Linked DNA regions of Homo sapiens. The protein of the gene in region 1 interacts with the protein of each later gene in a pairwise test. Each region holds a gene or a part of one and is shown on either strand. Other genes may lie near its edges. The genes, in order: TRIM41, SYTL4, PUS7L and FAM9A.

Evidence for each region.
Region 2: the proteins of TRIM41 (region 1) and SYTL4 interact in binary tests that used the Homo sapiens proteins (3 or more experiments, as listed by UniProt).
Region 3: the proteins of TRIM41 (region 1) and PUS7L interact in binary tests that used the Homo sapiens proteins (3 or more experiments, as listed by UniProt).
Region 4: the proteins of TRIM41 (region 1) and FAM9A interact in binary tests that used the Homo sapiens proteins (3 or more experiments, as listed by UniProt).

What each region holds. Positions count from the first base shown.
Region 1 is NC_000005.10:181,226,281-181,233,307, reverse strand, and holds part of TRIM41 (E3 ubiquitin-protein ligase TRIM41), read right to left. Parts: intron 2,565-7,027; coding exon 2,469-2,564; intron 650-2,468; coding exon 419-649; intron 1-418.
Region 2 is NC_000023.11:100,701,110-100,708,136, forward strand, and holds part of SYTL4 (synaptotagmin-like protein 4), read right to left. Parts: intron 3,778-7,027; 5' UTR 3,702-3,777; intron 2,077-3,701; 5' UTR 1,984-2,076; intron 999-1,983; 5' UTR 929-998; coding exon 819-928; intron 565-818; coding exon 349-564; intron 221-348; coding exon 111-220; intron 1-110. UniProt on the Homo sapiens protein: Modulates exocytosis of dense-core granules and secretion of hormones in the pancreas and the pituitary. Interacts with vesicles containing negatively charged phospholipids in a Ca(2+)-independent manner.
Region 3 is NC_000012.12:43,755,779-43,762,631, forward strand, and holds the start of PUS7L (pseudouridylate synthase PUS7L), read right to left. Parts: upstream 3,013-6,853; 5' UTR 2,972-3,012; coding exon of another isoform or gene 2,952-2,971; exon of another isoform or gene 2,926-2,951; coding exon of another isoform or gene 2,915-2,925; exon of another isoform or gene 2,508-2,914; intron 1-2,507. UniProt on the Homo sapiens protein: Pseudouridine synthase that catalyzes pseudouridylation of mRNAs.
Region 4 is NC_000023.11:8,791,357-8,798,383, forward strand, and holds part of FAM9A (protein FAM9A), read right to left. Parts: coding exon 7,003-7,027; intron 6,826-7,002; coding exon 6,794-6,825; intron 5,027-6,793; coding exon 4,912-5,026; intron 4,065-4,911; coding exon 3,722-4,064; intron 2,401-3,721; coding exon 2,302-2,400; intron 24-2,301; coding exon 1-23.

The DNA.
Region 1 (7,027 bases):
GCAGGAAGGGAGAAGCAGCACCCTCACGGCCCTCAATGAACACACATCCATTTCAACCACCCCATGCCTCGCCATACCTAACTCGCCTCATCCTGCTGTGAGCCCAGGGATACTGTCATTTCCACAATACGACTTGCTCACCTTTTTCAGGATGTCACTGTCAAAAAGACTTTCCTCAACTGTCATTTAAACCTCTCCTACAACCGAATCTTCATGCTTTTCACTGGGTATAATCGCCACACATACCACATTCGACATTAACTCTGTTTCCAGCTTTAAAACATGTTTTTGGTCTTCAGGTTCAATCACTGTGGGTTCCTCCCAGGGAGAAAAGAGGCAGCTCTGGACAGGCGTTTGGTAAGCACTGCCTGACAGCCAACACAGAATGCTGGGGGAACAGGGAGGGGACATTGCTCACCTGGAGCAGCCGGAGACCCCCCTGCTGGCTCCGCTCCTGGGCCTCTGCCAGCAGGCGGCTGAGCTGGGCGGCCTGTTCTGCAAGGCGACTAGCCGCGGCTCCCGCACGCCCCAGCTGGGCTTCATGCATCTCTCTGAGACGCCGTTCCAGCCCTGCCTGCTCTTCAGCCAGAAACCGTGTCAGTCGCCCAAACTCCGAGGCCACCGCTGCCAGCTCTGACTTCATCTGGCTCTGGAATGGTGCAAAGGGGATGGCAGACACCACCTCAACACGTACGAAGATAACCTCCAGTTTTGCAACTACTACTTCTCAATGCAAGGCAAAGGAGCCCTACACTCCCCAGGTCCAAGATAGTCCCGGAAAGAGGCTCATCCCCTACCAGCCTTACCAGATACCACCCCCTTGCTCCCAGCACAGTGGTCTCAAACTCACTAACCTCTGCCTGGAACACTCCTCTCCACCTGACTCTACCTAAGTTGACTCATCCTTCAGGTCCAACCTTAAATATTCCAAGACAAGCCTTCCCTCCTCTCCAGATCTAAATCGGGACCATCCCCACAAATATCACTGTATCTCTCTGTGGCACATATAATATTGAAACGTTGTGTTTAAATGACGTAACTGTTAACATCCTTTCCCCCACTGTACCATGAGCTCCCACTGACAGGGACTAGGAATGTCTTTGTTTGCCAGGGTCCTCGGACCCTGACATAGTACCAATCAGAGTAGGCACCTGGTAAAAATTTTTGAAATGAATAAATAAAAGAATTCAGGAATCAAAACATGAAGTTAGGGTCCCGACGCCATTAAACACAGTGACCTTAAGAAAGTCACCCAAAAGCCCCAGATCAGAACTCGGAAAAACTTTTTCTGTGAAGGTCCAGATAGTAAGTATTTTTATGCTTTGTGGGCTAAGAGGCAAAAATCAAGGATATTATGTAGGGACTTAATATCCTGTAACAGAAAAAACTCCTGCCCAGTCCCACCCTATTTGCCAGGGATGGCCCTTCCTGGGTGGTAGGCACACTTTTCACACAGCTACCATCGGCTGCAGACGCTGTGAGCAGCAGGCCAGAGGAGGGTCCCAACTGACCAGACGCGTGAGGGAACAGCCGCCACAGTCAGCTTCACTCTATGCCAGGGGCACACAGCTCCTGTTACCTCTATACCCAGGAGAGCCCAAAAGTATCAACTTGGGCAGCTGGCCAGAAGCACGATGACTTCCTACTCCCAGACAGATCCTACCATTCAGTGCCTAGCAGTCGCCAGCAGCAGAGTCCCTAACGTTCAGGTGGCAGTGAGCATGGGCCCTGGGTAGTGGCAAGGCCCAGGCACTGGCTGGGAAGGGAGGAGGGAAGAGGGACAGAAGGGGAGGTCCTGGCTTGGTCTATGAAGCTCACAGTGCCAGCCCATCCCAGCAGGACCTGCTGGGGTTATGAAAACAGGCGGGAGGTGGGGATGGAAAATGTATCTTAAAAGACTCCTTGGAGAAGGGCGAGCAATAATGGAAAAAAACAACAAAAAAAGCGGGGGGGTCGGGGTGTGCTGAGAAAACACTAGACTAGGAAATATTAGGTCTCTGCAGTGCTAACATACACTAAATCCTGCCCCAGCTTAAACACACTGGCCCCCTCTCAGGACACAGCAAGTGTCCCAGGACAGTGTCCGCCTCATGCTTAGGGCTGCTCTGCCCAGTGCCTGCATGGATCCTGGGGCCGGCAGCTTCTCTGATGGCTGCTATGTGGGTTTTGCTTTGCCCCCTTCAGGCTCTGGTGTCGGGTAGAAAGCCTGTTCTGCAGCCTTGGGCCAGGCACCTAGGCCCTCCAATCCAGGCCTCAGTTTCCACTCCATTTTGGAACCAGGAATGAACATGCCTCCTGATTCTCTAAGGCCCCGCTCTCCTCAGCACCTAGGGAAAGCATCTACCCCTCTCCCAGGCCTTAGCTGTCCCCTCCTCAGGGGACCAAGTCACTCCCTGTGAGAGTGGGAAGCCCTACCTTCCTTGCCTCGACTGTACTGCCCATCAGCCCCGTCGAGAACATTCACCCACCTTCAGTTCTGTCACTCGCCTCTCCTCCTTGGCTTTCATCTTCTGCACTGCCTCCAGGTGCTTCCTCAGTGGTTCCACGTGCCCCTGCAGTTTGGCCTGAGGAAACAGAAAAAGAAAAGTGGGGGCTGGGAGAGGCACCTGCCCTTCAGAGCCTACCTCTGCAATCCTCCCTATAGCAAGATGGGTCAAAGCCTGATCCCTACCCCCGAAAATGGGTGTCAAGTGAGTATTATACCTTCCTCCACTTTCTTCTTTCAGATGATGACAAAAGCCTCCAATCCCTCTGTGCACGTCTGCAGAAGCCCTGTGTGTATTTTTTTTTTTTTTTTTTTTTTTTTTTTTTGAGACAGAGTCTCGCTCTGTCGCTCAGGCTGGAGTGCAGTGGCACGATCTTGGCTCACTGGAACCTCCACCTCCCGGATTCAAGCGATTCTCCTGCCTCAGCCTTCCCAGTAGCTGGTACTACAGGTGCCCACCACCACGCCTGGCTAATTTTTTTATTTTTAGTAGAGACGTGGTTTCACCTCGCCATGCTACCCAGGATGGTCTCAATCTCCTGACCTCGTGATCCGTCCACCTCAGCCTCCCAAAGTACTGAGATTATAGGCGTGAGCCACCGCGCCCGGCCGGCCCTGTGTGTATTCTCTAAAGGTAGGAGCCTCAAGACTAGAGAGCTCCCACGCTCACAGCTGAGGGGAAGTGGCTTGAGCCCCGCACCAGAGTCTTTCCAGGGGTGCCCTCACCTTTGGTCCCCTTCCCCTTCACAGGCGATCTTCCCCAGAACTCTTCTCTCTAAATACTTTTCTGATGATTTTTTTCCTATGCTAAAACCTTTCCATGGGTCACCACCACTTCCAAAACATTGACCCCACACTTCCAGCCTCACCTCTACACTCAACGCCTTCCACACAGACTCTTAACACGTTTGACCACATAAAATTACTTGTCATTTCCTGAGTATAATTCCATGCTGTTCCCTCTGTCTGGGAGTGCCTTTCTCCACTTGGCCCAAGGTATTCTTCCTTTAAAACAGCTCCCTGAAAATGGCCCTGATCCTCCCCACCCCCAACATCCTCTGTGATCCCAAGAAATATCTAATACATGAGTTCCCAGGGCACCAATGACAGGTGTGCCTCCTCCAGGACACTGCGGAGTCCCTGCCCACACTCTACTTATTTCAACTTCTTTGCTTCTTTCTGCTCATCTGCTTTCTCTCCTGCTCAATTACTTGCTAAATGGCAAAGGACACCGAAACCCCTCTTCCAAAGGTTGTAACTGTTATAGCCAATAGGCACACGAGCTCTGTGTTTCTACAATTTGTAGCCAAATACTTTTCTTTAAAGGGCTGTTAGCCCAGAATGAGTGGAATAAGCCCTACCTATTTGCTCTTACCTTTTCTATGTCTTCTACTAGCCTGTCTCCTTTTCTTTGAGAGAGAATATAGGGTAGGAGAGCTCCAGCCTGACTCCAGTCAGGACCAGAGGGAAGTGAAGTGACCTCAGGCAAGCCATGCTTTCAGTTTCCTCAGCTTCAAATAAGAAGAGAATGGACCTCATGGATAGCACACTTACTGCAGTGCCTGGCATGTAGCAGAAGATCAGTAAATGTTATCTAATATTTGTTCCCTATACCTTAAGCTGCCAGTGACATCCTGATAATGACCCCTGAACTAAAGAGTTTACCAAGCCAGAGTGCAAACAGCAGTTGCTGCACAGGATAAGTGGTTGTAGACAAAATTACAGTAATAATGGAATTATAGTCAACTCGTGACAATAGCATGAACTACACAAAATTTGGCCTTCTGATATAACTTTCTACTTTTCTAGTCAATAATTTCTCCATTAATTCAGAATTTATAACGCTTAAATTTACCATTTACTGTTTTTTTTTTTTTTTTTTTTTTTTTGAGACAGAGTCTTGCTCTGTCGCCTAGAATGGAGTGCAGCAGTGCCATCTCGGCTCGCTGCAACATCCAACTCCTGGGTTCAAGCAATTCTCCTGCCTCAGCCTCCCGAGTAGCTGAGATTAAAGGTGCCCACCACCACACCTGGCTAATTTTTGTATTTTTAGTAGAGACAGGGTTTCACCATGTTGGCCAGGCTGGTCTTAACTCCTGCCCTCAAGTGATCTGCCCACCTCTGCCTCCCAAAGTGCTGGGACTACAGGTGTGAGCCACCGTGCCGGGACCCTAAATTGCTGACAAAAACAAAAATTAATAAGCACAAATTCAAACAGAGTTCTATTTAAGATATATTTCCTTTTTTTTTTTTTTTTTTTTTTTGAGATGGGAGTCTCGCTGTGTTGCCCAGGCTGGAATGCAGTAGCACAATCTTGGCTCACTGCAACCTCTGCCTCCCAGGTTCAAGCGATTCTCTTGCCCCAGCCTCCCGAGTAGCTGGGATTACAGGCACATGCCATCATGCTGGCTAATTTTGTATTTTTAGTAGAGACGGAATTTCACCATGTTGGCCAGGCTGGTCTTGAACTCCTGACTTCAAGTGATCCACCTGCCTCAGCCTCCCAAAGTGCTGGGATTACAGGCGTGAGCCACCACAGCCAGCCAGTTATAAGAGAAATTCTCAAAACATTTTTTCTTTTTTTTTTTGAGACAGAGTCTCGCTCTGTTGTCCAGGCTGGAGTGCAGTGGCGTGATCTCAGCTCACTGCAAGCTCCACCGCCCCCGGGTTCACGCCATTCTCCTGCCTCAGCCTCCCGAGTAGCTGGGACTACAGGCACCCGCCACCATGCCCGGCCAACTTTCAAAACATTTAACTGTCGGGCAGACACAGTAATCCCAGCACTTTGAGGGGCCAAAATGGGAAGATTGCTTGAGGCCAGTGGTTCAAGACCAGCCTGAGCAACACAGCAAGACCCTGTCTCCACGAAAAAAAAAAAAAAAAAATTAGCTGGGCATGATGGCACACACCTCCAGTCCCAGCTACTACTCAGGATCACCTGAACCCAGAAGGTCAAGGCTGCAGTGAGCTATGATCATGCTACTGCATTCTAGCCTGGCCAGAGTGAGACCCTGTCTCAAAAAAAACAAAACAAACATGTAACTGTTCAGGAACTATATTTACATATCATTTGTGTGTTATTACCTATTCAACAAAAAAAATTTTTACAAAACATTTTGCCAAGCTACTGGTTACTGCATGTACATATCTGAAAAGAATAAATGACCCACTTGTGGCTGGGCGCGGTGCTCACGCCTGTAATCCCAGCACTTTGGGAGGCCGAGACGGGCAAATCAGAAGGTCAGGAGATCGATACCATCCTGGCTAACATGGTGAAATCCTGTCTCTACTAAAAATACAAAAAAATTAGCCAGGCGTGGTGGCAGTCGCCTGTAGTCCCAGCTACCTGGGAGGCTGAGGCAGGAGAATGGCGTGAACCTGGGATGCGGAGCTTGCAGTGAGCCGAGAACACGCCACTGGACTCCAGCCTGGGCGACAGAGCGAGACTCCATCTCAAAAAAAATAAAAATAAAAAAATAAATGACCCACTTGTAAAATAGCCTATTAAGTCAGAAAGGGAATCACTCAAATTAGTCCTATACAATAAAACTATGTATTTACATTTACTCATCACTTAATGTCAGATTAAATATGTGTATATGGCCTCCCAAACTGCAGAGCGCAGTAAACAGATCAAGAAAAGAGAGTATGGCCAGGCGCAGTGGTTCACGCCTGCAATCCTAGCACTTTGGGAGGCCAAGTTGGGCGGATCACCTGAGGTCAGGCGTTCGAGATCAGTCTGACCAACATGGAGAAATCCCGTCTCTACTAAAAATACAAAAAATTAGCCAGGTGTGGTGGCACATGCCTGTAATCCCAGCTACTCGGGAGGCTGAGGCAGGAGAATCGCTTGAATCCGAGGCAGAGGTTGCGGTGAGCCAAGATTGTGCCATTGCACTCCAGCCTGGGCAACAAGAGTGAAATTCTGTCTCAAAAAAAAAAAAAGGGGGGAAAAGAAAAGAGATTATGACTTTTTTTAATTCCTCACCTACTTCAGGACCTAATACGGGATTTCAGGCAGCTGGCATTGAACAAATTTGGCTAATGCAAATTAAAATCCAGTTTCAGAAGCTCCTTGGAGCAGTCCTACAGGGGGAGGTGAAAGAGAAAGGGTGGAATGCCCATGGATAGTTTGGCCTGGGTTCCTGTTCACAAAGTGACCACACATGATATGATGGGTATGGTTAACTAGGAACTGAGGAGATGGAAAGGACAACAGGACCTCACAATCTCTGCTAAAAATGCAGGGACTAACAGCTAGGCAATGTTACCAATGCAGTGATCCCCATGCTAGACTGGGCTTTTTAAAGATATTCTCCTACTCACTGATTCAGAAACTCTAGTGGTAGGATCCACTGTATTTTTGAAAACCTCCCCTAGTAATTCCAACAATCAGGCAGGTTTAACAATCTTTGTGTAGCCAGGCACAGTGGCTCATGTCTGTAATCCCAGCACTTTGGGAGGCCAAAACAGGCGGATCACCTGAGGTCAGGAATTTCAGAACAGCCTGGCCAACACGGTGAAACCCCATCTCTACTAAAA
Region 2 (7,027 bases), on another chromosome or scaffold:
ATACAATCTTCTATTCTCCACTAACTGGCTGAGCCCATGGAGTTAAGATGCTACCAGTCAGAATACACTAGGATTCCATACCAAGAACCATCTCTAGACAGGTCCAGTACCTGCAGGTTTGTGGCGCAGGGACATCCTGATTATCTCACTACCTGTGCGGTAAGCAAAGCGATTCACTTTCTGGTCATAAAACCAGTCCCCAGTTGCTTTCTTCAACTCTCTGGGAAGAAATAAAAGAAAATGACAGATGGATAAAGAATGGTTCTTGTCTAATAAAGGCTGAGGAAAGAAATTCTCACCACGGCCAAGGCCTCGCCCCCTCTCTACTCAGCCATAGGTGACACTCACATTTCCTTGGCGCACACCTTGCACCTCCAGGTACCATTGCTTTCCTGTATGCGGCAGTCCCGACACACCAGGTGATTACAACCCCGACAAGTATTGGTTTTGGGACTCAAACGGCCCAGGCTCTCCTGGCACCGGGCACAGGTCCGATCACTGTAGTGTTGGCTGCCCCTCTTGGCCCCTTTCCTTTTTATCTCCAGTAACTCATTCTTTAGTCGCCTGCCAAGACCCAAAACAGAAGCGTAAGTGGATTCAGGATATGCATAGATTGGATGGAGAGGGGTTGAGAGGTAAAGACAGTAAGACTATTTGGTTCTGTGGAAGCAACAAACTCAGAGCCCAGCGTGACCCAATAAGTAGTGGTAAACATCACATATACAAATTCCTATGAAAGTCAGGTGGGAGACATAAGGAAAAGCCCAGACATCATTGGTCAAAGGCCTGGGACCCCATGCGTTTTGGGGAACTCTTACCTAATCCTTTTCTCATCTGCTTTCCGGACCTCTTCATCTCGCTGTAGAACACTGAGAATCAAATCCTTTTCCTCCTCAGACAGAAAAGAAAGGTCCAGTAACTCCGACATGATTTACTCAACTTTTTCTTCTACTCTTCTTTCTTCAAAACAACCAGACAAGGAGAGCTACCAGAGTTGCCTGAAATGACAAAAGAACTAATTTCACACAGATGATTTACTCAAGAATAGGCCCACAGCCCTAAACCCTTTCAATAGGTTCCTTTCCCCTTGAGCCAAGCTAAAGAGACAAAGTAGAAGTATCTGACCTATTTAGTCTTCCTACTCCCATCCGAAACATGCCCTGAAAATGAAGAGTCCTTGATTTTTCAGAAAGAAAAAGTTATTCGTGACTCTGGGAAAAGGATTGGTTATTCAGTATATGCATCTTAGTCTGGAAAGAACATAGAACAGCTGAGTCAATCTCCCCCTCCACCAAGTGAGTCCTCAATCATCCAATTTTTAATACTTTAAATGTTCTCAAATCTCAAGCCTATTAACCCAAATAACCAGGCAGCTGGTCTCTGCAGTGAAGGAGAAAAGCACATGAAGGCTCCTGCCAGTTTAAGCCCAGTTGTCTATTCCTAACCAGCTTCCATTCTCCCAGGAGTCAGTCAGCTTTCTGCTATACTTCAAAACTTCCACCCCCTACTCTATCTCTCAAAGTTCTTATCATACTAGCACTCTAGCACTACCTCCAGGATATCTTTCCCAAATTCATGAACACTTGTTGAGCACTACGCTGACAGGCATTGTGTAAAGTGCTGGGGATACAAAGATGAGTAAGGCACAGTTCCTACCCTTATGAAAATCACAGAGTAGCAGGGGAGACAGACACACATAAATACAGTACAACGCATTAAGTGCTATCAGAGGGATTATAAGGGACTATAAATTAAGTGCTATGAGAACTTAGGGAAGAAAGCAACTCATTCTATCTTGCATAGAGAGAGGAAAGAGAGCAGTATACATGGGAAATTTCACAGAAGAGGTGGATTTTGCCTTATCAGAGGACAAATTTCCTGGTAGGGAAGAATGGTAGGAAAGATAGTTTGGGACCAGATTACATAACTCTTAAAAACTTTTTTAAAATTTTAAGAATTTTGGCTCAGCATGGAGGCTCTCACCTGTAATCCCAGCACTTTGGGAGGCTGAGGCAGGAGGATCTCTTGAGCCTAGGAGTTCAAGACCAGCCTGGGCAACACAGGGCGACTCAGTCTCTACAAAAAGAAAAATCAAAACTTAGCTAGCCATGATGGTACACGGCTGCATTCCCAGCTACTCGGGAGGCTGAAGTGGGAGGATTGTTTGAGCCTGTGAGGTTGAGGCTACAGTGAGCTGAGATCACGCCATCACATGTGGCCCACTCTAGCCTGGGCAACAAAGCAAGATCCTGTCTGGAAAAAATTTTTTTTAATTTTAAAATTTACTGCATAGACAATAGAAATCCACCAAACATCTCTGATGTTGCTTTTTGATGCTGGGAAATCACATGATGAAATTCACTTTACAAAGACATATTATAGCTATATCGCTCTAGTTATAATATGAAAGACTGATTTAGAGGACAAATCAGAGGACAATTTGGTAGTACATACATTTAAAATAGGCATATACTTAACCAAGCAATATGACTTCTAAGAATTTACCTAATAGAAATATTCATACAAATGCACAAGCAAGAGTATATGCACAAGACTATTACTGCAACATTATTTGTAAGAACAGAAACAGTTATTTAACATAGGAATCATTAAACAAAATAATATGTCCCCATAATGGAACATTATGTCGCCATTAAAAATGTGGTAGATACACACGTACTGACATAAAAATATGGCCATGAGTGAAAAAGTAGTTGTAGGACAATAAAAAATGATCTTTTATAAAGAATTTATCTAAATATTTGTATATGCAAAGAGAAAGGTCTAGAACAAAAGCCACTATCATTGGTTTCCCTTGGGGAGTAGAATTGGGAAGGGGCAACTTTCACTTTTTACTTCACATAGTTCTAATTTGTTTTTACATATATCTTCCATTTATATCTCAAAAAAGAAAACAATACAAATGAGGCAGAGATATTATTACAATACTGCAGCAAAAGACAATCTAGATTTACTAACTGTGCCTCTAAACAATTAGACCAGTCATTTTATTTTTCATTTCATTTTATTTTTCATTTTTAGAGACAGAGTTTCACTATGTTGCCCAGCCTGGACTCAAATTCCTGGGCTCAAGTGATCTTCCTGCCTCAGCCTCCCAAGTAGCTGGAACTATAGACAGAGCCACCGTGCCCAGCAGAAGTCATTTTATTTCTGACTCTTTGGTTTCTCATCTACAAAACGACCCACCTCAAACGTTGTTTAAAAAATTAAATAATGTGTGTTAAAGGGCCAATCACAATGTTTGGAGTACAAATACTTGCTGAATCTTCTAAAATGATAAAGGCCTGAGCCAGGCAGCAAGAAAAAACAGAATAGGTTTGAGAAGTAGAATTGACAGAATAGGGAGACTGACTGAGCAGAGAGGATGAAGAAGGTGAAGTCAAAGATGCCTAGTTCACAGTCAAGATTAAACAACTGACTGGCTAGTGACAGCCCTCATAGCAATAGAAGATGTAAGGAAAGAAACAGGTTTGGAAGTAAGGCAAAAAGTTTTGTTTTAACCCTATTAAGTTAGTGTTGCATACTTGATATCCAGGTAACTGGGCCCAGGAAATAGTTGGAGACACAGGGCTGGACCTCAGGAAGAAAAAATGTATCTGATAATATACACTTGGTAGTCATGGGAGTCAAAGAGCCCAAGGTAGACAGAGAGTGAAAAAGGAAATGAGAATCACACTTACCTTCTCTCCTCTCCTTTGAAACTAGACAACACGCCTCTTTCACTTTATTTTTTCTTTTTCTTTTTTTACTAGTTCCCTACAAAACAGTGGAGAACATAAACAACACGGCAAAGCTATACAGGTTCCTGAAACCTCAATATTTCCTCAACTTGTATATTTCCTGGTCTTTATTGAACTATAAGATGTTAAGCCTCTTGCACACACCCTTTCTTAGACAGTCTTGAGGAAGTGTTCTTAGTTCTTATCCCCAAGGAGAATATATACCCTCCATGAAAACAAGGACTTTTTCAATCTTCTCCTCTGTATCTGCCCTAGCACTTAATGCAATATCTGGTACGCAATTTTGCATATGCTGCCAATATTGCAATCACTGTCATTGTCACCCCAACAGTATCTTTTATTGAGAATTGACTATACGCCAAACAAGTACCTAACATATATTAACTAATTTAATCCTTGCCACAATACCAAGAATGAGTGACTATTATTACCCCCATTGTATAGATTAGGATTCAGGAGAGGTTAGGCTAACTTGCCCAAGAATAAAGAGCAAGTAAGTGAAATTGCAGGGATTCAAGCCCAGGCAATCTGATACCAGAGTTGGTGCTCTACAGGCTCAGTCTAGGCAGAATTATAACCAAAGCAACTATAAAGTACTAAACAGACAAATCAAAAGCATTGTGGAAATGAATTCCCATATGTGTGATTACGGCTGAAACACTGCGCAAAAAAATCAGTGGCTCCTGGATAAAAGAGGTATTATCAGTTACCTGTCAGCTAAAAAGCAAGGATAGCACAGGCACACTAGAAATGAGAACCATATCAGATTTAAAAACTGGTGCTTGTGGAGAGGCAGCAGAATATTGTGATGAGAAAGGCACGTTGGCATAATAATGAGACCAAGTAATATCAAAATCCAGGGAAGTAAGAAGATCCTTGAGGAAATAAAGATAGTATCTTAAGAAAATGGAACTACCAATATTGTACATCTGCCCTTTCTTTTTCATTTATGGACCTGACCAACCAGAACTGCCCCCTCTGAAATCTTAAATTCAAGAATTCCCACTTTCCAACCACAGCTCACTCCTGCTCTATCTGTTCTTCAACTTTATCAAGACCACAGTCTCTTGAGCCCCACATTGTCTCTTGGTCCACTTGCCTTCTGCTGATCTATCTTCCCCCCATACCCATCCTGGACTCCAGATGGCTCAACATTTGAACCACTCTCACCAGTACCTTCCATATCCATATACCTTCATCCCTCTGCCACAACTGCCCATGAAAATCCCAAACCTGTGCTAATGCTCTAGCCTGCCTTGTCTGCTCCTATACCCAGGTTCTACATAATTCCTGGTCTACAACCTCAGCTGAACCCTCATTGTCACCCATAAATTCTGTTACTTATGCTTGTTCAATTCCTTTACCTAGTCCCTTTGGGTTCTATTCAAGCCTTCATTCATCTCACACTCCCACTTCCCTTCCCTCCAGTCCCATCAGACATGCTTGTCTCATACTTGTAAAAAGGTTTTTGTAAGACCATCAGACATGGACTCTATCAGCTCCCTGCCTCCTCTTCCCCATCACTTGCCAATCTGACTCCTTTCAGAAAAGCCATATCCCACCCCAAGCCCCACCTTCCACCATAGGTTGCTGTTGTTTCCAACACTAACCCTGTTAACAGCCAGCTTGTTTGCAATGGGATCTTGCAGAATCAGTAATGAGGAGCAGAAAACAAATTAAGAACAAAAATTAAAAGGCAAGAAGACAAAGGTAAGTGCAGAAAAAACTGAGACAAAGAGAAAACAAAAGGTAAAATGGTAAAAACAAGTTCAAGTATATCAATGAATATGAAACTCATATATGAGCAAAATTCACCCTTTGAAATACAGGAATTAACAGACTGGATAAAAGGAAAAAATCCAGTTATGTGCCATTTATGAGAGACACATCTAAAACATAAATTGAAGGGAAAATTGAAAGTAAAAAGATAGGAAAAGATATACCAGGTAAATGCTAGCCAAAAGAAAGCTGAGGTAGCTATATTAATATCTAAAAGTAAAAAAGACAATAAAAGCTTTATAAAGGTTAGATAAGATCACTACATAGAGATAATAAATATGCACCCACTAATAAAACATCACTAAATATACAAAGGAACAAAAGAGAGAAATTGAAAAATCAACCATCAAAATGAGAGGTTAACATATACTTCTTTGTTGTTGCAATTATGAATGGTACAAGCAGATACAAACTAGTAAATATATAGACAAGTTGAACAACAAAATGAGCTTGATTTAATAGGAATACAAAAAAAGTCTATATCCAACTGGAGAATTACATTATTTTCAAGCACATATAGAATATTTACTCCCAAAACTGACCATGTACTAGGCTGTAATGCAAGTCTGCATAATTTTTTTAAAAAATCCTTCCCATACAGACCAGTCTCTGACTTCGAGGAAATTAAATTAAATAAGAAATCAATTTAAAATAAGGTAATTTCTTATCACAATACTTTTTTTTAAAATTTATAAAGACACTTCTAAATAACCCACATGTCAAAGAAGAGATCATAATGGTACTAAATCTATCCTTAACATCTTAGAGGAAAATACCTGCCTCCTACCTCACTACCATCACTACTCCCCATACTATGGCATAGAATGTTCTCTAGAAATTCAAAAAGGAAAATATGAAAGAAAAATACAGCTTTCATATGCAATAAACCAAGTGATATATTTTTATGGTAAATAGTACATCATATTTTGAAAACTAGAACTCAGGAAAATAATGGAGGCACAAATACAGTTATAATAAGAAAACCAGATAGATGTGAAGTTAGAAAAGCTATGACTAATCGGATACTCCCAATTTATGGCTACTAGGGTTTAATAGAGAAACCAAAGCCCAAGAAAACTTAAGACCCTTCATTACATTCAGTCCCAGGTGTACAGTCAAAAAGGCAAGATTATCTATTGAGAAGACCACGGCTCAGGTAACATGAGTGTCAGAATCTGAGCTCAGATGGACAACTTGTTCTGTGTTAGTCCTGAGGTGTCAAGACTCAGATGAAGTATCTTAATATAGCATCCTTGTGGGACCCATGCCCATAAAAATATATTTTAGAAAAGGTGGTTTGTATCATTCTCAGCAAACTATCACAAGAACAGAAAACCAAACACCGCATGTTCTCTCATAAGCGGGAGTTGAACAACGAGAACACATGGACACAGGGAGGGGAACATCATACACCGGGGCCTGTCGGGGGTGGGGGGCTAGGGGAGGGATAGCATTAGGAGAAATACCTAATGTAGATGACGGGTTGA
Region 3 (6,853 bases), on another chromosome or scaffold:
TTTGATTATATTTCAAGGTAGGATTAAGTCAGTCCTGGGCCTTCTCTAATGCCCCCATTAGGACAAATAGAAGCTTTCAAGGTTGAGCCAGAGGAAAGTTCTAACTATATCATTGGCATCAGACAGAAGAAACCCTTACAGAGCTTCCTGGAAACACTATGCAAGAGAATAGTACTCTGATCTCTCACTTTTCACACAAACCCATGGCTACCATACCATATGGAGCTGCAGGAAAGATAAATTGCCCAGGGGCCCCATACTAGTGAGTTCTGTGTTTCCCCCACATTCTCCAAGTAACTTATCATCATCTGGACCATCATCTCATACCTATAATGTATTCTACTAATCTGAACCAATTTAGCAAATCACACCTTCTCAATCCTTTCCATCATGCCATATAGAAATCACTACAAATTCTCCATATCCTAATTTCCTAAGGAATATATAAGATATACTTACTTTCCTTAATTACTTAATTTCCTGTACAGTTCCCTCACTTTCTTGCCCTAATTGAAATCTGGCTATTTCTTCAGGCTGCTTCTTCTTCAGTCCTCTCAAGTAAAGGCTATTTTTTCTTTCCCACCCATCTACCTTAGGACCTGGAGGCTGTAAATATTGGTCTATGTTTGTCACTGTTCGTTGCAAGCCATTTCTTCCTCTACTACCTCCAAAAACCCCAATTCTTTTGAAGAGCCTGCCATTGGGCTTTACCATCTGCTGTCATCCTCTCTCGGATCCCCAGACAACTCTGCTTCATTCACTGATCTCTGGCTCACTACCTTCTTATCCAACATGATTTTTATGATCATCTATATGGATCATCCATTCAATGTCTTGGACCCTCAAGTCCTCAATCTCAACCTCAACCTCACACCTCTACTTCATCTTGGTCATCCACTGTCACGGTCATAACTTTGACTTTCTCATCTCCAAAAACTGCATTAACCTTAAGCATCTGATTCTTATGACTCCCAATGTCCTTTATCACACCAACTTTAATACTTCCATTCCAAAAACTTTTAGATATTGTGAAGGTCCCTAACTCCTGCTTCTATAACTAGCCCACAAACCAGCCAGAATGGTCTTAAAAGGTAAATTAAATCATATCACAATCCAGTTTAAAACCCTCTAGTCACATTTGCAATAAAATCCAAATTACTCACCCTGGCTTCCAAGGACATCTAAGATTAGGGACCCTGCTTATTCTCCAAACTCATTTGTACCTTTACCCCATTACCCACTATACTCCAGCTACTCTGGCCTTCTTCAATAGTTTTGTGCTAACTGTTCCTGTTGTTTAAATTGTTCCCTCCCCAATCATATAGCTGCATCTTTTAGGATTCATTTCCTCAGAGAAGTTTTTCCTGACCAATAATCTACAGGAACCTGCAAGTGATTCTCTTTTTTTTTGAGACGAAGTCTCACTCTGTCGTCCAGGCTGGAGTGCAGTGGCATGATCTCGGCTCACTGCAACCTCCGCCTCCCGAGTTCGAGCGATTCTCCTACTTCAGCCTCCCGAGTAGCTGGGACCACAGGGGCGCGCCACCACGCCCGGCTAATTCTTGTATTTTTTTAGTAGAGATGGGGTTTCACCATATTGGCCAGGGTGGTCTTGAACTCCTGACCTCGTGATCCACCCGCCTCGGCCTCCCAAAGTGCTGGGGTTACAGGCGTGAGCCACCGTGCCCAGCAAGTGATTCTCTTTCACAAAACCCTATTTAATTTTCTGCATAGCAGTTCTAGGTAAAGTTTTTCTTTATTATTTATTGTATATCTCCTCCAAAGAGAATGTTAGTTCCACGTGAGGAGTAACCTTGTCTGCCTTATTTACTACTGATGATCACACATTTTGAACAGTGTCAAGCACATGGTAGGTCTGCAATAAATACTATTGTTAAATAAATGAAATAACTAGTACAAAATAAGAGCTGTAGGAATGAAGTGGAAGATAATTAGAAGAGGCATAATGCAAGAAGTGGCCATCTAAGTCCTCCATAGTTCAAGAGATAGAAATGAGGCAGAGACCTCACAAGTAATGTACAAACAAAACATGCAATGTGTGCAAGAAAAACAAGCAGTCCAGATACAGAGCAGTGGGGATGGGAATGCAGGGAGACTACAGTGCTGGAAAATGTAGCTGAGTTAGTACCAGATTATGGAAGATGTTGAATGCCCTGACAAGGACTTAGAATCTATTGGGTGGTCAATGGATGGCTACTGTTAGTGTTTGAGTAGAAAAGTGACACAATTCCAAAACATGCTTTTGGAATTGTAAGATGATTCTGATGGAAATGAGCAAGATGTATCCGATGGAGTAACAGTTAGAGGAGTTCAAAAACAAAACAGCATGGTCAAGAACATAGCTGTAGGGATTGGCCCTGAAAGAATAATGATCTTTTCTTTCTCCCAGAAAAAAGGAGGAAGACAGACATTCTAAGCAAGTGAAACAGGTAGGGAAACTTGGGGAGAATGTAATTCCAGCATCCTGGTAGAAGAGTGGAACTGACCTGGAGGACAGCAAAGGAGCCCACGTGGCGTTAAGCCTGAAGGTGCAGTATTCCCATTCAACAGAGACTGCTGCTGACAGTGGGCGGGGGAGTAGTTTGCTTGGCCCGTGGTTGAGGAATTCGTTGGCGGAGGAGGGATCCTGAGAAGGTACTAGAAATACTGAACCCAGTCCTGCAGAAGCTACTTAACTTCACAGAAAACTAGGGCGTCGTTGCCCTCCAGCACGTCCAAAGGTGTCCCCGACAAGGCCAGCAGCTCTACCTGTTTCTTCTCCCTCCTCTTACTCTGCCTGTCCAAAGGCACGACACTAGTCCACGTCACCTTTCTTTGGGCGCAAAGGGTATGGATCCTCAATGCCAACCTCGTCACCCCCCCCCCCCACACACACACACACACACACACATACAAGCCCACCATCGCGCAAGAAACTCGACCCCGTCTACCTCGGTTCAGTGGAAGGCATTCATTTGCACAACGCTGTGCGCATGCCCGGAAGCCTTAAGTGTTTCAGCCTCCGACAGGGGCGTAATTAAAGGGGCAGGCGCCCACGTAAAGACGCGCCCTACGCAATACGTGGAGTTTCTCACTTTGTGGAGCCGCCTGGAGGCGCCAAGATGAAGCCCATCGGGGAAGTGGGGCGGGGCCAACCCGGCAGGCCCCGCCCCTTCGCGGCGCTTCCTAGTTCGGCTGGTTCTTCTGTCGCCGGCTTCAGCAGCCCGCGCCCGGGCAGGTAAGGCATTCCCCGCCTTAATGCCTCGGTCAAACGTCGTCCGAGGTCCGCTTCCAGGCCTCGGCACCTCTGCCCCAGGGTTGCTGGGGTCGGCTGCGGAACGGAAATCTCTTTATCATCCGTGAGAAAAGTTAGAGAGGAAGTGGGTTCCTTTGACAGAGCTTACTCCAGAAGAAAGACTTGGGTAGGTCCCCGGTAATCAAGAAGTTCGTCGGCCCTGAGGAAGAGCCTGAGGCTTGGAGGGACGTCACCCAGCTGTTCTGGGGCGCAGTCGGACCTCAAGTTTCTCACCTCTCAGGCCCTGGATTCCGTGAACCCGACTGCGAAATGAAGTCTCTTTTCCCCAGAACCAGGAAGTCAGGCCAGCACCTGACAGATGCCTGTGGCGCCAGCAGCTCGCTGAGCCTCCACACGATTGTAATTCGCTTGTTTCTCCGGCCTCCAAGCTTCCAGGGAATTAGAAAGTGGAGGCGGCTTATGGGATCAGATGAGTACATTCGCAGATGGGGGAAAAAAGTGTACCTGTCAGCTTGGAAGCCAGAGGGAGACAAAGGGATAAAAGCAAACCCTGTCCAGGTGCGGTGGCTCATGCTTGTAATCCCAGCACTTTGGGAGGCCCAGGCGGGCGGATCGCTTGAGGTCAGGAGTTCGAGACCAGCCTGGCCAACATGGTGAAACCCCTGTCTCTACTAAGATACAAAATTTAGCTGGCATAGTGGCGGGCGCCCGTAATGCCAGCTACTCCGGGGGCTGAGGCAGGAGAATCGCTTGAACCCAGGAGGCAGAGGTTGCAGTGAGCCGAGATCGTGCCACTACACTCCAGCCTGGGCAACAGAGGGAGACTCCGTCTCAAAAGAAAAAAAAAAAAAAAAAAGCAAACCCTGAGAAAGCGAGAAAGCACTTTGAGCATTTAGAATGGGAACAAACGGCGCTATTAGTGCTTCAAAAACGTAACTGCCCAAGGCCCCTGGTAAGCAGAGGATACTAAAATCTGCCTTTTCCCTTTCTTGGAGTGGTCCTTGAAGAGGGCTATCGGGAAGTTCAAATTTCTTCTGTTTTCCTGCAGAGCGTTCATTTGAAGTTTGCTTTCTACCTCTCCAAACTGAGCTTCTGATATTCCAGGCCAAACTTGCTCCTTCCTCAGCCTTCTCTATCTCAGTAAATATCGGTAAACTTGGTTATGCTGTCTTCTCACTCTCCACATCAGCCCATAGCTTTCTATTGGCTCCACCTCAGAATCCTAGGACTTCTGCACTTGCTCTGCTACGACCCTGGTCCCAGCCTGCAGCACGTCCCACCTGGCTTATTGGTAGGCTCTCCTAAATGCTTCTTTCTTGCTTCTCTGTCCTTACTCCAACATCCTTTATTCCCAGCAGCCCCAGTATCCTTCTAAGACATGAGTACAGAGCATGTCTCTTTTCTCAAAACTTCCAGCATCTACATCTCACCCAGAGGATAAACAAAGTCAATACAAAAACTCTAAGGCCCTTGAAGACCTGGCCCCTTTACCTTTCTGACCTCATCTGCTACTTGCCTGTTCCCTCCTCTGCAGTCTCACCATGTCCTTGCTGTTGCCCAGTGGGCCCAGTTCCAACCTTTGCATTTACATTTCGTTTTGTCCACAAACTTTTCCCACAGATAGTCCAGTGGCTGGCTTTCTCCTTCTTTTTGACCTTTAATCAAATGGCACCTTCTTATTGAGGCTTCCTGTGACTACCATATTTATAATTACAACCTTTTCTCTATTTCGTTTTGTTCTTTCATTTCACTTGGCACCATCTAACATACTATAGAGTTTATTTATTTGCTTATTGCCTTCCTTCCTCCATTAGAATATAAACTCCATGAATTCAGGTTTTGGTTTTGTTTTGTTTTTTTTCTCTAATTTTCCTAATGCTTCATCTCCAGGGGCCTGGAGCAGTATCTAGCACAAAGTAGACACTCAGTAAATATTTGGTGAGTCAATGGTATTATATTTTGTTTTTTAAATATATGCAAAGCATTTTCAATTACTTACTGTTGTGTTGGATCAATGTTCAAGAAAGATATGTTAAGTTTAATTTATGGTACACCAGCACATATCCCAGTTTGTAATAGGCAGCCCTATCTAATTTAATAGCTCTGGAAGCCCTCACCAGCTTTTGTTCATAATGATGATGTTAAAGTATCTAAAAATAAAGATTAATGGTTATACAGCATATTTTGCTAAGAATATATGGAAGTAAATAGTGTATTTTAGAAAGGATATAAATACATTAAAATTACCATGGTTGATCAAATAAGACAGCCACCATCTCAAAAGCTTAGCTATTTTCTCAGACTTGTTATTTGTACGCTTTCAGTAGATCCTCACTACTGTTCTGGAAATTGAACCTAAATACAGTCTGCACATATCTTTAAAAATAATGTGATATAAGAATAATTTCTGCCAGGAAATAATAATTGCTCCTTTTTTTTTTTGACCACCTATTATTATGTGACAAGATTTGGCCCTTTGCATGTGTTGATTTTAATTCTTACAGCAATTCTTAGGTATTACTATCTCTGTTTTTCAGATAAAGAAAAGCAAGGTGCAGAGAAATGTATTTACTAGCTCTGGTCACAGTTGGCTTTGGTTAGAACTTAGGCCTGTGCAACCTCAAAGTTCATCTTCCCTCCACCCCTGCACAATCTTTTCCTCTGATCAAAGTGCTAATGAAGCAGTCTTAAAACTTTATTAACACATTTGACAAGAATCTTTTGCCCTCCTGTTTTGGGCACAGTACTTTGGGAAGGCATTGGATTCCATAAGCAGGTGCTTATTTTAATATATTTCTCAATCACCACCCCACCTTTTACACTTGTCTGAATTGTCTTACTTGAAAATATGAATGGGTTTTCTTTACTATGAGAGTTAGTGGTATGAGGAAACAGTCATGAAGGTATTTACTTATTTGTAAGCAACATATCCTGTTCCACCTGTGTTAATCCTAAGTGTACTAAAGTAAATCTTGAAGAATTTGAAAGAGATGACACTTTTTAAGTTTTTTTTTGCCCAGTCTGTTTTCATTATTGAAAATTCAGAAAAGCAAAATGAAAACAAAACTATCATAAAAGTCATCACCAAGGGATAACCACGTTAATATTTTGGCTTATGTTCTTGTAAGTATGTGGTTGGGAGTGGTATATGAATATACATTTAAAGTAAAATTTTAATTTCTGGGATTTTGAACTTCTGGGCACATGTGTGGAGGAGTTGCAGAAGGCCTTCTTTTTCCTAGTATCCCTACACTTATCACCTCTGCTGGAAGCCTGGGTGCAGGAGAGCTACCAAATTTATCCCTGGCCTTTAGATAGTCTGGGTTTTTTCCTCAATTCCTTGTATTTTGCTCTAATTTATAAGACTACTAAGCAGTTCTATCTTGTCTAGCTTTGTCAATCATGTTGTACCTTACAGTAGAGAGAAATCTTAGTAAGGAAAAATAACTTGAAGAGAGCAACTGCAGAGTCTATAGGCAACCTAGATACAATTTCTTAATTAAAGTTAAAAAGTCATCAGCCTTTCATTCAACACAAATGTTGTGAGTCGTTGCTGAGGTGAATTTGGTTGGGTCCTAGCTCAGGAGAGCACCCATC
Region 4 (7,027 bases), on another chromosome or scaffold:
TTGTCTTTAGTGTCCTTGGCAGCCTAAAAGAAAAAGTCTAGTTCACTGACAAACCACCACTTTACATCTCACGTTTTAAACAGGGTTAATCAGATGTCAAAAGGAAACAGCTTTTAATATTCAAAGGATGCTGGTTATTTATTTCAATTTGAAAAAAACTGTAACCAATACATGGAGCTCCAAATACCCACTTAAATTTTTTAATGCCAGATTTCAGTGAAATATTATTTTAGCAGGTCCAATTGTCATGTACTTTGCTTGAATAAAATGGGTTGATGAGCATCTTAAGGTCAAGATGGAGCAAAGACAGAAAAAGTCAGGCAGGCTTACCATGAAATATATTTTTTCAGCAGGTAGTGACCCATGTATTATCAGCAATAGTCTACGGAAAGTGGTTTCCATTGAAGGGATAAAATGGTTGGTGATATGACCTCATCAAGTTAGAGAAAAATGTAACTATGTTTGAAATATATACTATTCCCTCAACAAATAGTTCAACAGTTCCTACTCCTGAAAATGGTGTATGTTAATGCTAAGGAAGATGTAAAAAATGTAAGCACAATCTCTTCCATAATCCTGTGACATGAGCAAATGCACAAATAAAAAAAATTAATACAAAAATTGTATAACTGCTATGGAAGGGCAACTCACTCAGACATGTAGCCAAAAATGGAGACGTATGTTGACTTAGTTGGCAAAAGGTTTAAATTGGTCTTAGTCAAAAAAAAATTTTTTTAAAGCATTGTGAGGGAAGAGCATGAGAAAAGCATAAGAGTAACAGTGAATTCCTTCAGGGAAAGCTGTCAACCTGGATAGGCAGGAGCAAAGACAGAGGGCGGCAAGCCTAAGAGGGGGTCATGTAAAGGGGAGAGTCTCTGAATATCTAAGAACTGAGACGGGGCATCACTGACAGGCTGGGAAGAGGGAAGGGCTAGGAAGCATTTTAGGAAGGGGAGGGTTTTAGGAAGATAATATTGCCGATCAATGAAGGATGGCTCAGAAGAGAAGAGAGAACTCAGAAAAGAGTTTAATAGTACAAGCAAGGAAGAATGAGGTCTTGAACTAGGGCAGCTGCGGTGGGAATTTTAAAAAAAGAAATTTAAGGGCCATTACAGAGGTAAAACTTGCCTCATGATAACTGCATGGGAAGGATAAGGGACTTAGAAGAGTCCAAGATGATAGCAAAGTTCCTACCCTAAGTGGTAACATGTAGCATTAACATTGACAGGAAAACTTCTAGTCTCATGTTCATACCAATTAATAAATGGTTTCTGGTGAACATTATAGCAACATTTTCTCTACTTGTGACTTCTATTTAAATAACTGTTTTGTGTATAGATCATTCTCAAGTTGCTTGAAAATTTTATTTTCAAACTCTTTTCTCAGTTTATTTAACACATCTCAGTTAGTGTAGAGGAGTGACATATGAACATGTCTTTTCACAAGGTTATTAAAAAGAATACCTTACCTCCCAGAAGGGAATTCCATTGTTACCTAAATAATGTACATCTACATGAAGAAGAGGTCATTGATGACAATTTGCTAATGTGCTATACGACAGCAGATAATTCACAATTCACAACGTGTTAATAATTTGCTGGCTTTCCCATTCTGTTATACATCTGAACCATCTCTTATGACTACAAATTGTCATGTAAAACCATTACTAGTCGCTGATAATTTTGAAAGTGAATATGCCATAAAACACTCCTGTATTACAGCAGGAAATAAAAGAGACACTCAGTAGTTACACTTGCCTACTTCCTATTTAACTAAAACTCTTGAAACAACACAAGTAAAAAAGACATCCAGAAAGGATTTATGGTCTTCCTGCCTTCCACCATAGATGTGTCATTGATGTCCTGAAAACTGAAAATAAAATCTTCATTAAAACCCATTTATGCCTAGTGTTCCATTATTGGAACGCTAAGCTTGTGGGAATCATGTATCTCCTACCGCTCAAGAACATAGCCAAGGTCTGTTTCTTCACACACAAAAAATGTGCAGCCTCCGGCATAAATGTGTCAATGCGTTAACAATATACACAAGATGTATATTTCCAGGTAAAATTTCCAATTTACCTTTTCCTGTTCTAAATAACTCCCACAAAACTATTCACGAATCCTAAAAATACATTTACCAGTTATGTTAAATTTGGAACAATACATTCAAAGTGAAAATGGTAAGTAATTTAAAATGCATAACCAAAATGTCTTTCCATACATTCGGAAACAAACAGACTTTCTTCTGTTATGCACGTGTTGTATTTTATAATGTATTATGTTACCAAATAGAACAGACCTTTAGTAATTGCTCAAGTAGCGGCTTCATCTCTCTCAGCCTCCAGCTCCTAACACCTGTAGGTTGTTGCCACCTCTTCTGTTTTTCTTGAAATGCTTTCTAGAAGCACAAAAAAATAGTGATGAAAATTGGGTAATTTTTAATACTTACAAAACATAATTCTGCATTAGCTTTATAGGAATACTCTTTAAATCTATACTTCTTAACACTTTCTTTTAAACAATGTTTATGACCAATTTTAAACAACTGTGTTCACCACCCATATGCTAAAATGATATAATAACCTTTTTCATCAGTGATTAAGGAATTTTCTTTCTTCTACATACATAATCAACACATATGTCTTAATTCTTGATTTTGAATGTAGAGTATTTGACGACCCTTCCTATAATTTGTTGACCACAGATGGGTAAGATATATACAGAAATTAACTAAGAAACATTCTTTCTTACTAAGATTTTAAACAGGTAATAAATCTTGGTCATTTCAGTATGCACACGGATGAACCTTCCAATAATGATTGCCTTTCTGCACCTTGACCTAATCTCCAACAACAGTGTTCTCCTCTCCTCTACGTGGCACTCACTTATACAGTCATCCCCTAGATTTTATCATTCCCAATGACTGCAACATCTACATAATATTAATAATAGCAATGATAAAGAGCAATCATGGGTCAGATCACATCCTGAAAAATTTAAATAAACCCATTACACAGGAACCTTTCAATCCTCCAAATAACTCTGACATAAGTTCTCTTACCGTGTCTCCTTTTGCAGATAAGGAAATTTCGGCACAGAGATAAATAATTTGCCCATGGTTCCCGAGCTAGCAATCGTCAAGCTGGAGTTGAATTACAAGCAGTGGGGCTGCAGTGTCCCAGCCCTTGACCACTGCACTCAGCTGTTTCTCCATCTTCCCAACATACAGCCACTACCTTCCTGCCACTGTAGGTCACTCACTTCAGTACTACAGCTCAGGAGTCTGTTGAGACCCGACACCCACTGAATGGAACACTTTTCACTGCCCATTGCCCACCCCCATGTGCTCAGGTAACTCAGTCCCAGCTGAAATTCCACAGCCAGTCATCATATCCCCATCCCTGCATCTATGCCCTGCCCAACTCTCCTTCTATCAACGTGCGCAGCTACACCCCAACCCAGGAAATTCCAACCCTACAGCTGCTTTTGCACAAATATGCCAACCGGGCTCACTTTAACTTCTTTATCGCTATGATGCTGACCTCAGTTGGACCCCTAATGCTGCGTGGCAATTATATTCCCCTAGTACATGAGTCCACTTATGGGCCCCCCTCTCTGGGCTCATGCTCTCTTCCTTCTTTGCTGGATTTCTGCATGAACTATTACTACCTGAGACATTGATACAATAGGTTAATCATAAAGCTAAGCCTGATACCAACAATTTGTTCTTCCTCTTCCTCTTCTTCTTCTTCCTCTTCCTCTTCTTCTGTTTCTTCTCCTTCTCCTCCTCCTCCTCCTTCTTCTCCTTCTTCTCCTCCTCCTTCTTCTTCTCCTTCTTCTTCCTCCTCTTCTTTCTCCTCCTCCTCCTCCTTCTCTTCCTCCTCTTCGTCTTCTACTACTATTACTTCTGCTGCTGCTGCTGCGGCTTCTGCTGCTGCTGCGGCTTCTGCTGCTGCTGCTGCGGCTTCTGCTTCTTCTGCTTCATCATCTTTCTGCTTCTCTGCGATGTATTCTTTAAGGACATTCAGCAACTTCCGAGTATGTCTATAATCACGTTTCTGCCTGTAACACATAATAAGTAATACGGTCATATGTCATAGAGAGATGAAAAATTAATCCTATTCAAACCAAAACTGACTTCACATAATTTATACTATAAAGTAGCAAGGGAGTAATAGCAGCTGAAATCTTCTTTTTGGGAAAAGGTGAAATGAGTTACTGTCATTCTGAAAGGATCCCTTCCTAACTGACTACTAGAGCAGCTATCTTACATTCTTTATGTGCTGAAAACAAAGGAGAGTTTACTGCACTATAAATTTCCCAGAAACAATAATTTTCTCTAACAGCAGTTTACTTTTCATTTCCTCAAACTAAATAACATATGGGTTCTCATAAGTAGGTTCAAGAATATCATAGCCATTCATCCTGTAAGATTTCCCAAAAGAAATACTTCACTTAACTCTTTCTCCACTTTGGCACAACAATGATTTTCTAAAAGGAATAGTGAAAACAATTTAACTAAAATAGATAACATATTTACAACATAAGGTTGTCCCTTTCCACATAACTTAATATTGTTAAGGATCTACAGACTAAACGTTGAAGACATTTATCTTATATGCAGCTGCCATATTTCTAGAAATGGATAAAAATTAATTTTACAGGAAGACTATTTTTATCTGGAAGGCAAAAAGAGGTCATCTTCATTGGCTTTCTAGATAATATGCCTCAATTCTGTTAAACTGAGGTTATAAAACAAAAGAAACTTACCTGCTTAGGGAACAATCAAGTAAAATATGTTGCTCCCTAGAGACGCCAATATGTACAGGACAGTTTTTGAAATTATTTGCACCAACAAATACAAAGAAATGATATAAATATCATTATGCAAAAAAGCCAACAATCATACCTTTTTAGTTGTTTTTTTTTCAAAGCACGTTCAATTGTGTTCTTGGTTTTCCTGTAAGCTGCTTTATCTATTTTTATCATTTCTCTTTTTGCAGCAAGGCCCTTTTTAATGTCAGCTAGATAGTAAATGAAAATGCATTAAAAGTTAATGTTGAAAAGTGGTTTCTTCGCATATATTGAAATCAACGTGAGATATGATGGTTCAGCAATATCGGAAGGACATTTACATTGTAAAATACAAAGATCATTTCAAAAAGCAAGATTTACTCACTTGTTTTCTGTAAAACCTTTTACGTATTAATATTAGTACTCTAATTCCAATTGGTATAACTGCAAATCACTTAATTTATGGATGATGAAAAAAAGCAAGTAATTTTCGATTTTTTAAATGTGCAGAAAGCGTTACAAACACAGACTCTAATTTCTACATTTATAAAATGTCCTGTAATTCAAAGGACATGTTTCCATGAAATACTGTCACAATTCATTATGTAAAACATACAGAAAAGTATCTTATTTAATAAGACCATCAAAAGGGTAGAAATAACTTAGTACACAATAAGAAGAGCATTTTTTAAGCAATCTGGTGATTGATGCTATTAACTGTATTTTAATAAAAGAAGCATCGTCCATGGGTATAAAAATTTAGGCTTAAGTAAAGAAATACATTCAAAAACACTTTTGAAATATTTTCTTGGAGCTTTTTATATGACATTTTTATCCACAGTGCTGTGTTTCAGAAAACTGTCCTACTGCAAGGAATGCTTTCCTAAACATGGTTTCACATCAGAGATCTACCATCAATTGCTAAAAATAGTTTTCAGCAATCATAAAAGATCTGCACCATAATACAAATATTTTTTACATTCTCCATCTATAATGCTCAGTTAGGTAGCTCACAAAACCAGCACTTACTCACCAAGCAGAGCAAAGCTTTCCAAATATACTGCTTGTATGAATTATCGCTAGAGAAGAGCTGAAAACTGAATTGAGCGTTTTAAAAATAAGAGTATTGTCTCCGCCGTCTCTACAGAAATTTTCTCAATTTTTTTTTGAAAATATGGTCCTATAACAGTCAGTGCAACTAACAGTTCACATGGCAATACAAAATTTATGAGTTTTTGGATCCAATTACATGTTTCTCACTGGGTAGAAAACTTGTCTTTCCTTTTCTAGTACACAGTTTATTACTGGAATAATAATAGAATATCATCATTTTAGATAATTCAATTTTCTCTTGTACTTTAAAGAAAACAAAATCAGAAAGCTGTGACAATAGAATAGCTAAATTAGGAACATAAAAACTCATATTAAAAACTCTTGAGTACATACGGACAGGAAGAGGGGAACAAAAGACACCTGGGCCTACTTGAGGTTGGAGGGTAGGAGGAGGGTGAGGATGAAAACCACCCATCAGGTGCTATGCTTATAACCTGGGTGATAAATAATCTGTATACCAAACCCCTGTGACACGCAATTATCTATATAACAAACCTGCACATGTACCCTCAAACCTAAAATAAAAGATAAAAAAACCTGATATATATACTTAATCTGTGTACACTAAAAGGAACCAATAGAGCTGTTTCTCCTCCAGTGTCCTCTAATATCCCCCAAATAATTAAATTTCCATGTGTATGAAAGAAAAGCCATCCCTCTCACTTCACCATTGTTAGAAGCATTCTCACATTCCACATCAACAATCCAAAAGGTAAGTATGAAAATTTATTAAACGCATTACATTAAATACATATGTTAAATGCTATATATGAGAAGAAGGCATGTTAAGACAGTCTCGTCGTCCACTAATTCATATAACCTACTATAACAGTTGTATGGTTGAAAATAATTTTCAAAGACTACGAATAGCTCCTAAAACATACCTGCAATATGTTCTAGCTTCATGGTATGAATCCTGTAAAAAAAGTTACATCAAAATTTTATCATAATGCTACACAAAATGCCATGTTTGTTGGGAAGATATGTCTTATGTGAAATGTTCCGCATAGAATAGAATAGTGATGACATGAACCAAAGCTGACTTTTCCTAAAAGACCCTATCCGACAGGCAAAAGTGACTTAAACACTTTACCCCGTGTGTTCATCTTTTTCAGCAA